Regions from separate parts of the Homo sapiens genome. Here region 1 is linked to region 2. A link means that fine-mapping ties the variant in region 2 to the expression of a gene that starts in the linked region. Tissue or cell type: whole blood. Region 2 holds a variant in brackets; the other region holds the start of a gene. All regions are shown on one strand. Distances are between the middles of the regions.

Region 1 (8,085 bases), 130 kb after region 2:
AGCAGCCGCAAAGATTATGGCGAATTTACACTCTACATGAGAAGACTGGACATATACAGAAAAAGATAACAGCCAGGCAATGTGACATAGGCTAAACACTAAATGAGTGATTTGTTTCCCAAATTACACTGGATTAATTCACACACTTCAAGATAAGATACTATTATGGAATGATTTTTATATATACATTCAACCAACATTTCCTAAGGGCCCACTATATGCCAAGCAACCCGCTTAGCACTTTTCCAACAGTGTCTCATTCAATTCTCACATTTTATAGATTAAAGATGTGAATCTGAAAGGGTGAAGTGACTTGCCGATGTCTACATATTAAGCTGCAGAGACGGGATTTAGAATCATGTCTTCCAACTCCATGTCCTTTCATGGGACGTTTTTTGCTTTTTCATTCATCCTATGGAATACAATAAAGTGTTCTGCACAAATGAGCCACCACCAACTGCCAGCCTGATATAACTAGATGCTTATCTACATTCTGAGACGGGACCATATCAGATCAAATTACTCTGGTGCCTATTATAGATCATGTGCTGAAAGAAGTGCAGTTGGCTGAAGATGAGCAACTCTTTCAAGTTATATTTTAACAGTGTTTTTGACCACTATATCCGGTCAGTTGTTCCAGTGTTCAGTAATAAATCAAAATGATTGTTCGTTTCCTTTGACAGTTAACAGTACTAATGAATTCAGTATAATCTCACCATCCATCAGAAAAATTTCTAAAATGCGAACTTGAAGCTGATGATTCACACAGTTAGAAGAGAGGGGGAAATAAAGCAGTACTCATTGTTTTCTACAAAACTAGCATTGTTTGCAAAATCCAGAAACCAAGCAGTTGGTTAACTACTAATAACAAGCAGGTTGCTCCTTGGTCATTTAGCAAAAAGCTGCTTGTTGCACCACAGTCGATGGCTGAGAAGCATATGACTTCAAGTAGCTTTTGCTGTACAGTAGGATTCCATACATATAAATCAGTGGATCGTTATGTAAGACAAGAAAAAAATTCAAAATCTTCACACCAGAAAGCACCTGACACTGAGTGTGGCACAAATCCGAATAAATGTATACTGAGTAAACCATGTCAGGGTCTTTTGAAAATATCAGTTGTCTATGAAATTGAGAGAAGAAAAACCAAATCACCTGAATTCATACAGGTTATGTTAGGAACTCAAAAATATGGAACAGCTGGCTCAAGATGTATAACAGATTCACAATGACCAAAAAAACAATGTTTACAAATGTTGAATTAAGAAGCATGAATTTGACATCTCTCTTGAATTAAGTCACCACACTGGCACCCAATGGAATGCTTATAGGCAATCTCAGTAGAAATAACAAAAACTGAAAGAACTGACGGACAGAGCTAACTTTCCAATCTGTTCAAAACAGAAACAAGATGTACTAGTGGACACCTGAATCCTGCCGTTTAAGCTTTTGTGCCTTCACAATTAAATAATAACCCGGCCGGGCACGGTGGCTCACGCCTGTAATCCCAGCACTTTGGGAGGCCGAGGCGGGCGGATCACTTGAGGTCGGGAGTTCGCGACCAGCCTGACCAACGTGGAGAGGACCGCCCCCCCCACCCCGCCCCCACAAAAAATACAAAATTAGCCGGGCATGGTGGCGCATGCCTGTAATCCTAGCTACTCCGGAGGCTGAGGCAGGAGAATCGCTTGAACCCGGGAGGCGGAGGCTGCGGTGAGCCGAGATCATGCCACTGCACTCCAGCCTGAGCAACAAGAGCGAAACTCTGTCTGAAAAAAAAAAAAAAAAATCCCAATATGCCAAAGCAGCTCTGTCAAAAACCTTCAACGCTCACAAACATATCTAGTAATAACGAACGACTCATTAAAATGTACTATCTGTTCAGAGAAAAAAGTATTAATATATCTACAATACGAGACTGGGCTCCAAGAATATAAATCCAAATTGTACTGATTGGTCTGAATAAGCATTTTCCAAAATGAACAACCTGAACCTACACCACGAATACATTTAATTAGTTATAAAGCTTAGGACAACGCTAGTGATCTCAAACATTAGAACGTAAGCGCTGAAGCCTGCTCGTTAGTTCCTTTTACCTGGAGCTTTAAATTTCTAAAGCCATCATCTCCAGGGACCTCTGAAGGAAATTCAAGGCCAAGTATAGTATTTCATGATAAGTGAGAATAAAGGCACTCAATCCCTGGAGCCGGCGATTCCTGTTCCTGTCTCTAGACTGGACTCGGTAAAAGCCCGAGGCGAAACCTCCCGTTTATCTCCTACAGGACCCCAGCACCTTAGGGGATGGCTCCACAGAGCCCCACCGGGACCCCCCATCGCGGGGACCAGAGGGGCGGAGGAGGGAGACACTCTCCAAAACAAAGCGCCGCTCGCCCCACGCGGAGGCAGGCGCACCTTTCGCCCTGACAGGACGCAGACACACGTGTGTCACCTGTGCGGGAAGGGGGAGCAGCGACATCCTCGGAGGTGCGTGCCACGGGCAGCGGTCGGCGGCTGCGCTGGCCCCGATGCCTGGTGCCCGCCGCTCATTCCCGGGCTGGGGAAAACTTTCGGCCGCCTCCCCCAAGGCGCGCCCCCACCTCCCGGGACCCCCGGGGCACGCGCCCCGACCGCGACGCCCCGCCCCAGGCCCGCCCCTCCGCGCCCACGGCTGCGGCCCCGCGCCCCCAGCCCCGCGCGGGCACCCGCGTGCCCTCAGGCGCGCCCCCGCGCCGGGCCCGGCCGGCAGAGGGCGGGGTCGCTCACCAGTCCGCAGCTCGTGCTTGACAGTGAGGAGCTGCTCTCCTCCGTCGCCGCCGTCCGCGCTGGTCCCCGCGGCGCCGCCGCTGCTGCCACCCTCCTCCTCCATCTTCTCCTTTTTTTCCGATCCCGCGGGTCGCTACGAGGGGAACCCAGGAGACAGCGGACGCCCGTCCCCTCGCAGCCGCTGCCGCGGCCCCAGGAGTCGGGGTGCGGCGGCTCCAGAACTCGGACGCAAAGACGAGTCTCTTTCCCGCTCTGGCCGCACGGCTCGCTCCTCGCCTCCTCCCCCTTCGGCGGGCACCGCTAGTACCGCGCAACCAAACCGCCCCCTGCTCCACCGCCGCCTCCTCAGGCCGCTCCGCCCACAGCCAGCAAGGTAAGGGAGCCATTCGAGCCGCCTTCGCTGATTGGACACAGGGCGCGCGCGTCTGCCAACGCCGGTTCCCATTGGGCAGTACGCTGTGACGTTTCACGAGCCTCCCCGCCTCGCTCCTCGAATTGTTGTTGCTTGGCGGGGAGGCAGGAGAGGGAGGAGCGCCGCCACTCCGATTGGTGAGACCCAAAGCTCTGCCCCGCCCATTTCCTCTGGTGCGCACTCGCAGTCAAGACCTTCCCTTCCCTGACCTCCCCAGAACGGTCACACCCCTTATTCCCCAGCTTCGATCTGTTAGTAAACAGTGTCTAGTAGTCAGGAGGCGCTCGGGGTCTCTGATTGGCTACTGCCGAAAGAGGCGGGGAGGGATGATTGGAACGTTTGGTCCGCCAATCACCGTGGACAGAGGAGGGGCCTGGAGGGTAGCGCTTATCACCCACGTGTTTGCAGACAAACCTAAGGGTCCCGGCAGCGATCCATGCGTGTGTGACAACCAGCGAGACGGCGTGCCCTAAAAAGGTCTTACTCGCTCTAGTGAACCCTAAACAAGTTAAGCAGAGTGTTTGTTCTTAAATAACAGATAGTTCTTAAACGTTACAAAAATTCACAGTCCCAGCTCCCGATGAGGAATTTTACGAAGGAGAGACATTTCTGTTTCGTACAAGACTCTTACTAGGCGCCGAAAGGATGCAGAGATTAACAAAATAGAATACAATTCCTCCCCTAAGCAGCTTTCAATAGAACGTGAGAAACAATCTGTGTGTGTACACAAAAGAACTATAAAGCAGAATTTGAAATAAAGCAGTCGTACAAAGCGTTAGAGAATCTCGCACGGATGGCAATAATTATTCCCAGACGAGGAACTGGGGAAAGCTTTTAGGGCAAGGAGGCATTTGAGATAACCAACGTAAAGGATGGATAAGAGAGAAATACCAGCAATAGACATTCCACACAGAGAGAGTAACTGTGAGCATTGGCCTACAGCAGAGAAGGCAAGGGTGGGTTAAGTGATTGATAAGGTTAGATGAAAGTATGATGTAAGAGATACAGCTGACAAGGTGAGGTGTGGTAAGATAATGGGGAACTAGGGATGCTGTGCTGAAGAGTGCAGATTTTTTTTAGTACACAGTGATGAACTGAAAAGAGGAGAGAGATAGCAGGGCAGGAATCCTGCTGCAAGGATAGAACTAAAGGGAACCTGATTTCTAGTAGCAGACACGAGAATGGGAAAAAGCAGAAACTTAAAGATGTACAGTTGGACGTAATTCAGATAGATGTGATCTTTTAAACTAAGCATGGATTGGATCAGGAGTCAGCACACTTTTTTCTATTAAGGGCCAGATAGTAAATATTTTAGGATTTGCAAGCTGTATGACCTTTTTCACAACTACTCAGCTCTGCCATTGTAGCGCAAAAGCAGTCATAGACAATAAATAAAAGAAGTAGCTGTGTTCCAATAGAATATTTTTTATGGACATTGAAATTTGAATTTCACATAGTTTTCATGTATCGTAATATATTCTTCTTTTAATTATTTTTGAATCACTTAAAAATATAAAAACAGGTCAGGCGCAGTGGTTCACACCTGTAAGCCCAGCACTGTGGGAGGCTGAGGCAGATGGATCACCTGAGGTCAGGAGTTCAAGACCAGCCTGGCCAACATGGCAAAACCCTGAATCTACTAAAAATACAAAAAATTAGCCAGGCATGGTGGTGGGCGCCTGTAATCCCAGCTACTCAGGAAGCTGAGGCAGGAGAATTGCTTGAATCTGGCAGGCGGAGGTTGCAGTAAGCCGAGATCACACCATTGCACTTCAGCCTGGGCAACAGAGCGAGACTCTGTCTAAAAAAAAAAAAATATATATATATATATATATATATATATATATATATATATATATATATATATAAACAATCCTTAGCTCAAGGGCAGTTAAAAAACAGGCAATGAGCCAGATTTGGCCTACAGGCCATAGTTTGCAGACTCCTGGATTCGACTGCTGTGAAAGACAAAACACAGAAGCCTTGCAAGTTCCTTCAGGTTGCTTTCACAGCTCCCTGGGCTTACCTGCCTGGAACATTTATCATCACACTAAACCATGACTGCCTACTTACTTGTCTTTCTCCTGCAAAAGTCATGTGCTATTTGGAGCCAGGCAATGACTGTGTGCAACTGTTCATTTGTTCACTCGAAAACTTTTATACCAGTTATATACCAAGTACTGTAATAGGTGCTAGAGACACAGTGGGAGCAAAACAGATGCAGTCCTTGCTCCTATAGAGCCTACAGTCTAGCAACAGATATAAATATTAATCACATAAAGAAATATAAACTTTCCATTGTGATCATGCTGTAAAGGAAAATTACAGGGTGCTACAATAGAATGTATCAGGGATGCCTAATTTAAGTTGGAGGAGCTGGAAGACCTTTGTAAGTAAGTATTATTTAAGCTGAGACTTTAAAAATGAGTAGGTTTTAACCAGGATGTGGCAAAAAGTAGCCTGATGTTCACCAATCTCATTTCCTCTTCCTAGACACACAGGAAGACTTTTTTTTTTTTTTTCTTACCTCCTTTGCAGTTAGGTTAGGGTCATATGACTATGATCTGGCCAATGGGGTATGGGCAGATCCTATTGGTATGATATATAACATTTTCAGGCCTGACCAGAAAACTCCTTGCATAATCACTCACACTCTTCTCTTTCAACTGCTGTAACAAAGGCCACATTTTTAATGTGGGTATGCCACAGACTGGGAGGACTCTGAACCCCTGAGTTTCCACTTAATTCTTTAAGGAGCCACCTGACCTATGTCAGACTGTGATGTGAGCAATACATACACCGTTTTAGGCATAAGCTAGTTAGATGGGATTATTTGCTACCAAAGCATAATCTAGCCTTATACTACTTCATATGTGTAATATGGAGGGATCAAAATTTTAGGAAGATGTCCTGAGGCAGGCAAAGAGCCTATTCGGTTGAGAGATTGAGAAAGGCAGTGGAGCCTTAATGCAGTAAGCAAGGGATGAGGTTCAGGAGGTGGGCAGAGGCCCGGTCAGGAAGTATGTGGTTGCTCTTATTAATATTTTTGGACTTTATCCTGTGTGAAGTGGGAAGCAGTAGAAGGAATTTAAACACAGGAATGATATAATCGTGGTAGTATTTTCAGAAGGTCACTGAAGTTAGTGTTTGGAGACTGCGCTGGAGAAGGCAAAATGGGATACAAGGAGACCAGTTAGGAGGCTATCACTGTAATCTGGGCAAAAGATGAGAGTGGGTGCAGTAGAGATGGAGAGAAATGGAACATTTCTATGTTTATATTTTGAACTTGAAGGATTAGACTTGGTTAGTGAGAAAAATGGAAATATCTGAAATGACACCAGTGTTTCTAGCGTGAGCAGCTAGTGGCTGGAAGAGGATGGCAGTACCATTTAATAATGAAAGGGACAAATTAAAGGAAGAGCACATATGAGAGAGAACATCAAGAGTTTAATTTTGAGACATCCAGGGCCAAAATTAAGTAGCTATGTGGATATATGAGTCTAGAGCTCTGAAGAGAGGTCTAGCATAGGGATGTAAGCTTAGGAATCACTGGCACATAGATGACATTTGAGGCCAGAGGTACGAATGAGATTACCTAGGGAGAAGCCTGGGTGCGGTGGATCATGCCTGTAATCTCAGCACTTTGGGACGCTGAGATGGGCAGATCGCTTGAATTCAAGACCAGCCTGGTCAACAAGGTGAAACCCTATCTCTACTAAAAATACAAAAATTAGCTGGGCATGGTGGTGCATGCCTATAATCCAAGCTACTCGGGAGGCTGAGGCAGGAAAATCACTGGAACCCAGGAGGCAGAGGTTGCAGTGAGCTGAGATCGCATCACTGCACTCCAGCCTGGGTGACACAGTCAGACTCTGTCTCAAAAAAAAAAAAAAAAAAAAAGAAAAGAAAAGTTGGAATAAGAAGGTGGAGCTAGAGGTAGAAAAGGAAAACCTGGAGAGTTTTGTATCTTGGAAGCCAAAGTATTTCCAGAAGAAGGGAATGGTCAGCTGTATCAGATACCCTAAGATGTCATATAACATGAGGTCTAGAAAGATCCACTGAATTTGTCAACTTGGGTACCACTGATGACAATATCCAGAGCAGTTTTGGCAAGGCAAATGGAAGGTGAGGAAGTAGTAACCATGTGTGGGGACATATTTTTCTCCAAAGGAAAATAGAGAACAAAGATCCTAGCTGGAGGGATCCAGGGAGTTTTTCGGTTTTTTGGCTTTTAATCTTATTTTCAAATAATTTTAAAATTGCAGAAGAGTTGCAAAACTTAGTAAACTTAGTAAAGCAGAAGCACGCCATATGATCACTTAAATGTGCACACATGTAGGAAGAGTTTCTTCCACAGACTTAAGCACTGTGCTGAGTGATAGGAGGGAGGGGAGGGCATGGGTTAGGGATCTGAGGAGAGTGGAAACAGGTTGGAACAGCCACTATGAGAAATAGATCTATCCAGGCAGCTTGTATAAACGCTGATTAGCACAGGGCTCCAGTGGAGTTAGAAAGCCTGAATCAGGATAGTGAAGTGTCTTTCTCTAGCAACTTACATATCCCCTCTGGGTGGGAGATGAGCGGTTGGGCAACAACCTGGTTAAAGTGAATGACCCTGGGGCCTAAGCTGGGTGAGAAGGCAATGAAGCCAGGATAAGCTGCTAGCCTGGAAGAATAGGATGGAGTCCAAGGAGTTGGCGCTAGTATGGATGAGTTCTCAACCTTGGCTGAACATCGGGATCACCTGGGATACTGAAAAATAACAACAAAACAAAACAAAAATCTCCACCACTCCTACCCCTAAAGAATGTGACTTAAATTGGTCTGGGGTTGGGCCTGGACTTTGGGATTTTTTTTAAAGCTCCCCACATCATTAACCTAATGTACAACCAAGTTTGTAATGCACAACT
Region 2 (8,104 bases):
CTAGACTCCACAGACACAACAAACTGAAGGATTACTTGAAACAGTAGAAAAATAATCTGTAAATGACCAGCATGTTGTAAAAGATAAAAGACATAAAATAAGACAGCCTGGGCAAGATGGTGAAACCCTGTCTCTACAAAAAAATTAAAAAAAAAAAAAACCTAGCAGGGCATAGTGGCGCATGCCTGTAGTCCCAGCTACTTGGGAGACTGAGCCAAGAGGAATCACCTGAGAGCAGGAGATCGAGGCTGCAGTGAGCCATGATCGCACCACTGCACTCCAGCCTCGGTGATAGAGTGAGACCCTGACTCAAAAAAAAAAAAAAAAAAAAAGAAAAGAAAAGAAGAAAAAGAATCAAATAGAGCTGTGCAAATAAAGAAACGAGGCAATAAAAAAGGCAGACTAAACGTATTAGACACAGCTGAAGAAAGACAGTAAATTAGAGGATACTTTTGCAACATTCTGGATAATCTTCTCAAGACTTAGTAAAATTGCTGGGCATGGTGGCTCACACCTGTAATCCCAGCACTCTGGGAGGCTAAGGTGAGCGGATCACTTGAGGTCAGGAGTTCGAGAACAGCCTGGCCAACATAGCTCAAATCCTGTCTCTACTAAAAATGCATGGTGGCACGTGCCTGTAGTCCCAGCTATTCAGGAGGCTGAGGCAGGAGAACTGCTTGAACCTGGGAGGTGGAGGTTGCAGTGAGCAGAGATCGCACCATTCAACTCCAACCTGGGCCACAGAGTGAGACTCTGTCTCAAAAAAAAAAAACAAAAAAAAAGACTTAGTAAAATTTACTAAAGACTTAGTAAATTTGAGAAAATTATCCAGAATATTGCAAAAGTCCTAAGCAGATTAAATAAAAATATATTCCTGATTGGCCACATTCTATTTCTTCACTTGAGTGGTGGTTACAAGGGTGCTGTCTTATAATAATTCACTGAGCCATACATTTATTTTGTTTTTGAATCTGTTTTACTTTACAATAAAAAGAGAGACATATATATGTATGTGTATATATATATATATTTAAGTGTGTGTGTGTGTGTGTGTGTGTGTGTGTGTACATATCTCACAGGTCCATTCCTAGATCTATTTATACCCAGCAGCTAAGTTATCAGTTAATATGCAGGGCAAAATAAAGCATTTTAAGACAAAGACAGAATTTATTAATCATTGAACCTTGCTAAAAAGAAATCTAACGTATGTATTTCATAAATTAATAAATTGAACTTGAAAGAAAAAACTCAGATGCAAGAAGCAAGAATAAGCAGAGAAAACAAATGTGTAAGTAAATATAAACAAGCACTGAATTTATAAAATAAAAGTAATAACTGCACAGTAATGATTGATTTGTGGAAATTTAGCAGGTAGGACTAAAATACTAAATAATATAAAAATTAGATAAATAACTGAAGTTGAAGCATTCTAACGTTCTTGTAGTGGTCATGATCGTTTGAGAGATAATGGATAATTTCAGACTCTGTTAAGTCAGAGCACAAGTCTAAAATCAGGGTAATATTACAGAAATGCCTTGTGTATAAAAATAGATAAGTAAATAAAATCAGGGTAATAACTACTAAAAGAACAGAAATAGAATATACATGACTTCCAGACCATTAGGCGGACATGAAATCAAAAGATCTTAATCATTTAAATAGAAGACAGGAAAAAGGGAAAACAGAAGCAAAGAGAAACACAAAGCAAGATAAGAGAAATAAATAAAAATATATCAGTAATCATAATATACAGGTATCATAACTCACCAGTTAAAAGACAGAAACTCTCGATCAAAAAATAAAATCCAGCTATATGTTATTTATAAAAGGCACACCTAAAACATAATGACAAAGAAAGATTGAAAGTAAAGAGATGAAAAAAGTTGTATCAGACAGCACTAACCAACAGAAAGCTGGAGTATCTTTATTAATAGGAGGAGAAATGAACTTTAAGGCAAAAGAATTATTAAAATTACGTACATTACAAAATAATAAAAGGAACATTTCACTAGGGAAATAACTCTATTCCAAGCTTGAATATCCTCAAAAATTTGTGAAAAGCTTTAAAAATATATAAAATAAAAATGGAGAGATCTTCAAGGAGAAATGGACAAATCCACAATCATCATGGGTATTTTAACATATGTTTCTTATAACTGACAGATCAAGAAGGAAAAATATTAGTAAAGATATTCAAGATTTGAATGATATTCATGAAAATATACAAAATCCTGTATCCATCAATTAGAGAATACACACATAGTCTTTCAGGCATATGTCTTTTTTCTCTTTCTTTCTTTTCTTTTCTTTTTTTTTTTTTTTTGAGACAAGGTCTCATTCTGTCATCCAGGCTGGAGTGTAGTGGTGTGATCACAGCTCACTGCAGTTTTGACTTCCCAGGCTCAAGTGATCCTCTTGCCTCAGCCTCCCAAGTAGCTGGGCTCTTGCTACCACGCCTGGCTAATTTTTGTACTTTTTGTAGAGAGACGCAGTTTTGCTATGTTGTCCAGGCTCCTGAGCTCAAGTGATTCGCCCGCCTCAGACTCTTAAAGTGCTTGGATATAGGTATGAGCCACCACTCAAAGAAAAAGTGACAATAAATATTACAGTAACAATAAAAATACTATATATAAGAACTTGTGGGATGCAGCTAGAGCTATTTTTAAAAATTCACAGCTTTATTTTAAAAAGATTAAATATTAGTGAGCTGGATGTCCAAATTAAAAGCTTAGAAAAAGAATATGAAAGAAGCTTATAGAAAGTAAAATGCACAAAATAATAAACCTCATCAAAGAAAGAGAAGAAAAATAGAAGGCTTGACAAAAGCTCTTTCTTATAAAAGACTAATAAAATGGACACTTCTAACAAAGGATCAAGAAAAGTAACAAATGAATAATATCAGTAATTTAAAATAAAACATTACTATAGTTACAGAGATTTTTAAAAGTAAGGAAATTCTGAAGAAACTGATGTCAAAGAATTTAAAAAGATAATACCATTTTCTATAAAAATGTTAACATTCAAGAAGAAATAAAAACTCTAAATATACTTGTAAATATTTTAAAAATTAAATCAGTATTTGAAAAGCTACTTGCACTCACTTAAAATGAAAAAAAAAAAAAAAGGAAAAAAACACACTCTGGCAGATTTGAAAGTGAATCCACACAAACCTTTAGAAGAAATGTACTTTATCTTACATAAACCATTCTAAATCCATTTCATGGTGCTAGGACAACCTTGATACTAAAATGTGACAAATGCAATTTTATACAGGAAAATTATAGGTCAACTTAGAAAATAAAATCCTAAGTAAAATATTAGCAAATAAAATCCAGCAATGTATAAAAAATACATATCATGGAAAGTTAAGTTTGTTCCAGGAATTGAAAGATGGTCTAACACTGAAAAAGGAAACAAAAATCTATTCATATAATTCACATCATTATGTGGTTAAAGAGAAAAACCATAAGAATTTACTTATAACAATAAAGATACTAAAAATATAATTTATCTACCAAAAACCTACAGCAAATACCATACTAAATGACTAAAATACATGTTCTTTAATGTAAAAAATACATATACACATAAAACTTGGTAGACAAATCAATAAAACCAAGCCAAACCTAAACAAAATAACCATCCCCAAACACACAGAAACTAAAAGGTATGAGAAATGAAAAGAAACAAAGCCATTATTACTTACAAATAATGGTTCTGACTTTTTTCTTTTTAATGTAGTCATCTATACAAAAATCCAAGTCAATCTATAAATTTGTGCACCTAATAAGAATTCAATGTTTTATGTATAAGGTCAACAGCATTCCTAAGCTCTGGCAAGAAAAACATAAATATTCCAGTTTTTAAAGGTAATTCTTATAATTGAAACAAAATGTATAAATAGAAATAAGTCTAATAATATATGTATAAAATATTACAGATAATAGTACAAAATATTTTTGAAAGACATAAAAAACTAAATAAATGAGAAGATCTGAACATTCACTGATGCAAATTCATTGACTGGAAGGGTCAATATTCAAAAATTGCAGTTCCCTCCAAATTAATTTATATATTCGATTCCACAATTCATGTGGAGGAACACAAAAAGCCAAGAATAGAGAAGACAGTGAAGAGGGAGGACGAAGGTCGGGGGAAAGGAGAGGGAGGTAGGGTGAGGGTGAAGAGGAAAAAGATCTCACCTTTTCAGAATCAAGACTTACTATAAAATGATAGGCTTTTTTTTCTTTTCTTTTTTGAGATAAAGTCTTGCTCTGTTGTCTAGGCTGGAGTGCAGTGGCATGATCGCAGCTCACTGCAACCTCAAATTCCTGGGTTCAAGTGAACCTTCTGCCTCAGCTTCCCGAGCAGCTGGGACTAAAGGCATGCACCAACACACTCAACTAATTTTTTAAATATTTTGTAGAGATGAATTCTTGCTATATTGCCCAGGCTGGTCTTGAACTCTTGGCCTCAAGCGATCCTCCTACCTCAGCTTCCCAAAGTGCTGAGATTACAGGCGTGAGCCACCACGCCCGGCCAGCCAGATGCTTTAAGATATTTTGGTTCTGATACAGAGCGAGGCAAACAGACAAATGGAATTCAATGAAGAGCCTAAAAACAGACTCGTAAGTATGCTTGGGAACTTAGTTATATGACAGAAGTTGCATTTCGAATAAGAAGAGAAAAGATTAACTGACTAGTCAACAAATACTTAAAAGGTAATTGGGTTATTTGTATTAAAAATATAAAATATTTCCACCTGATTTTATACCCTAAATGTAAGACCTAGAACTGTAAAAATCCTGGAAGAAAATACATGGGAAAAGCTTCATGACATTGGATCTGGCAACGATTTCTTAGATATGACACCAAAAGCACAGACAACAAAAGCAAAAATAGACAAATGGGACTATATCAAATTTAAAAACTTCTGAA[T/A]ATCGAAGGAAAGAAACAGAATGAAAGGCAACCTACAGAATGGGAGAAAATATTTGCAAATCATATATCTGATAAGGAGTTAATATCTAGAATATATAAAGAACTCCTAAAAACAACAAAACCCACAAATAACCTGATTTTAAAATGAGCAAAGGACTCTAATAGACATTTCTCCAAAGATAACATACAAATGGTTAACAGCATATGAAAAGATGCTCAACATCACTAATGATTAGAGATAAACGCGAATCAGAATTACAATGAGATTTCACCTTACACTCATTAGGACAGCCACTATAATAACAAAAACACCAACATAACAAGTGTTGGCAAAGATACGGAGAACCTGGAACTTTTTAGCACTGCTGGTGAGAATGTAAAATGGTGCAGCTGCTATGGAAAATAGTATAAATGTTCCTCAAAAAATTAAAAGTAGAACTACCATATGATCTAGCAATCCCCCTTGTGGGTATATATCCAAAAGAATTGAAGGCAGGCCTCTTGAAGAAATATTTGCACAACCACGTTCACTGTATTATTCACAATAGCCAAGAGGTGAGAGCAATCCAAATGTCCATCAACAGATAAACGAATAAACAAAATGTGGCATATAAATACCATGGAATATTATTCAGCCTTAATAAAGAAGGAAATCTTGTCACATGCTACAGCATGCATGAACCTTGAGAACTATGCTAAGTGAAATAGTCACAAAAATAAAATAAATACTGTACAACTCCACTGACATGGGATATCATAAGTAGTCAAACTCACAGAAATAGAAAGTAGAATGGTGGCTGCTGGGGGTTAGGGGACGGGGGAAAAGGTATAGAGTTTTAATTTTGCAAGATGAAAAAGTGCTAGAGATCTGTTACATAACAAAATGAGTATTATTAAAGCTGCTGAACCATATATTCACAAACAGTTAAGATGGCAATTTTTGTTTTGTGTTTTTTTAACCACAATTAAAATTTTTTTAAAATTAAAAAAATAAGCCGTAAAAGAAAAGATTTAGTACATTGGATATTAAAATGTTAAATGGCAAAAAAGATCATTAAACAAAATTAAAAACAAGTTAAAATTTTAGAAAAGAAATTTACAAAACATATAGTTATAAAGGGTTGGTATCTATAATACTTAACGAACTCCAACAAATCAATAACATCAGGGGAAAAAATGCAACACTGTGATAGAGAAAACATAGAAACAACCTAAATGTACCTCAGTAGGAGAAAAGATAGACTGGATAACTAATATAAAGGATTATTACACAACAGTTAAAATAAATGAAACATCCCATTTATCAGCTTGGATAAATTTCAAGAATAGGTCAAATAAAAAACAATTTGCAATAGAATATGTCATGTATGTACATTTAAAAAACATGGTAATAGTATATATTGTTTACGGATATACACACATGAAGTAAGGGTACTAAAACACAATTAAAATTAATCCACCACATACTCTTTACCTGCACCAGTGCAGCTACACATTGTTGGAGAAAACCATATAATCAGGTTGGCCGATTTTATTCAATCATTCAATCATTCATTCATTCATTCATTCATTTGAGACAGGGTCTCATTCTGTCACCCAGGCTGGAGTGCAGTGGCATGATCTTGGCTCACTGCATCCTCTGCCTCCCGGATTCAAGCAATCCTCCCAGCTCAGCCTCCCAAGTAGCTAGGAATACAGGCACGTGCCACCATGCTCGGCTAATTTTTTTATTTTTTTATAGGAATGAGGTCTCACTGTTGCCCAACACTGTTCCCCAGGCTGTTGAGTCTCAAACTCCTGGGCTCAAGTGATCCTCCTACCTCGGCCTCCCAAAGTGCTGGGATTACAGGCATCAGCCCAGGCAATTTCACTTTAAATTCATGATCAGGAATCTCACATGGGTCTTAATAGTACCCAGCAAACACATTCATTTCCCTAATCCGTTCACTCTCCCACATTGTTAGTTGGTTATTTTATATCATCTCCTTTCTCCTAAAACCTCGATGTGTCCACTCCCTTCCTCATACTCAGTGAGAAAACAGAAGACCTTCTATAAGCTGCCAGTACACACCACTTAACCTCCACCCACATGTGTGCCTAGTAACTCAACTTTCTTCAGTTTCTAAGCATGAACTGACCATGCTACTCGTTAAGCACTAGTAGCATGATCACGCACAAACTCACTTGTGCGTTTGACATTATCCTTCTCAAGGACAGTGTTCCAGCAATTTCCCACTTTACCTGCTGTATTATTATAGGAGATAGATATCTGGGTTTGGGTGGTAGATATCAGTGTATCTACCCCACTTCCTTTTGAGGACTATTCTAACTAGTGTATGACATCTGTAATTTCTCCCATCTTAGGGGAAAAAACCCTCTTTTCATCCTCACTTCATCCTCTGCTATGCTCTTCACAGAATTTCACTATTCCTTTTAACAGAAAACCCCAAGTTGTCTACATATGTGGAAGACAATAAGGCTACTGCTATTCTCTTTCCTAAGGTTAAAACTGAGCCAATCAATGCTCAATCTTCAGTCCCCATCTTATTTAACCTAACAATAGCATTTGACACAGTTAATCATTTTCAACCTTGAAACATTTTTTCACTTGTCTTCTGAGACAATCCACCTTGTTTTCCAAATTCCAAATTCATAGATCCAGACCAGACTTCTCTCCCAAATTCCAGACTCATATAGCTCACTGCTTAACATCTCTGCTGTGTGTCTAATAAATGTCTCAAACTTAACCTGTCCAGCTGAACTTCTCCTCTTGTAACCCCAGATAGCTCCCCATCAGCAGCCTACCCCATATTAGTTGATGGAAATTTCATCCTTCCAGCTGTTCTGGCCAAAAACCTTGGGGCCACACTAGATTTCTTCTGAATTCTCATACCCCACATCTAACTCATCAAAAAATTCCATTAGATCTAATGTCAAAATAGTCCTAAAATCTGCTACTCCATAGTCTAGGCCAGTTCCATCTCTTGCTGGGATTACTTCAACAGTTTTCTATCTGGACCTCATGTTTCCACACTTGTCCCACTACAGGATTATCACAGTTATCAACCAGAATTATTCTTCCAAAATAGGAGATCACTACTCTTCTACTCAAAACTCCCCAGTGGCTCCCCATTTTGTGCAGGGAAGAAGCCATAGTCCTTACAAT

The links. PIP is the estimated chance that this variant, and not a neighbour inherited with it, causes the effect.
Region 1: RPS6KA5 starts here. The variant in region 2 is fine-mapped to the expression of RPS6KA5 in whole blood (INTERVAL, PIP 0.98).

What each region holds. Positions count from the first base shown.
Region 1 is chr14:91,057,569-91,065,653 of GRCh38, forward strand. It overlaps RPS6KA5 (ribosomal protein S6 kinase A5), which reads right to left and starts at 3,073. Exons shown (of 17, transcript NM_004755.4): 1 at 2,764-3,073. The coding sequence starts at 2,866. It also overlaps a transcript of DGLUCY not described here. RefSeq lists silencers at 2,526-2,595, 2,666-2,795, 3,166-3,225, 3,446-3,575 and enhancers at 2,803-3,383, 5,798-5,947.
Region 2 is chr14:90,925,631-90,933,734 of GRCh38, forward strand. All of the region lies in intron 5 of RPS6KA5 (ribosomal protein S6 kinase A5), which reads right to left. Among named protein-coding and RNA genes, the nearest start is that of LINC02321, 100 kb to the left of the region's middle. The variant T/A (reference allele first, on the strand shown) is at 4,939.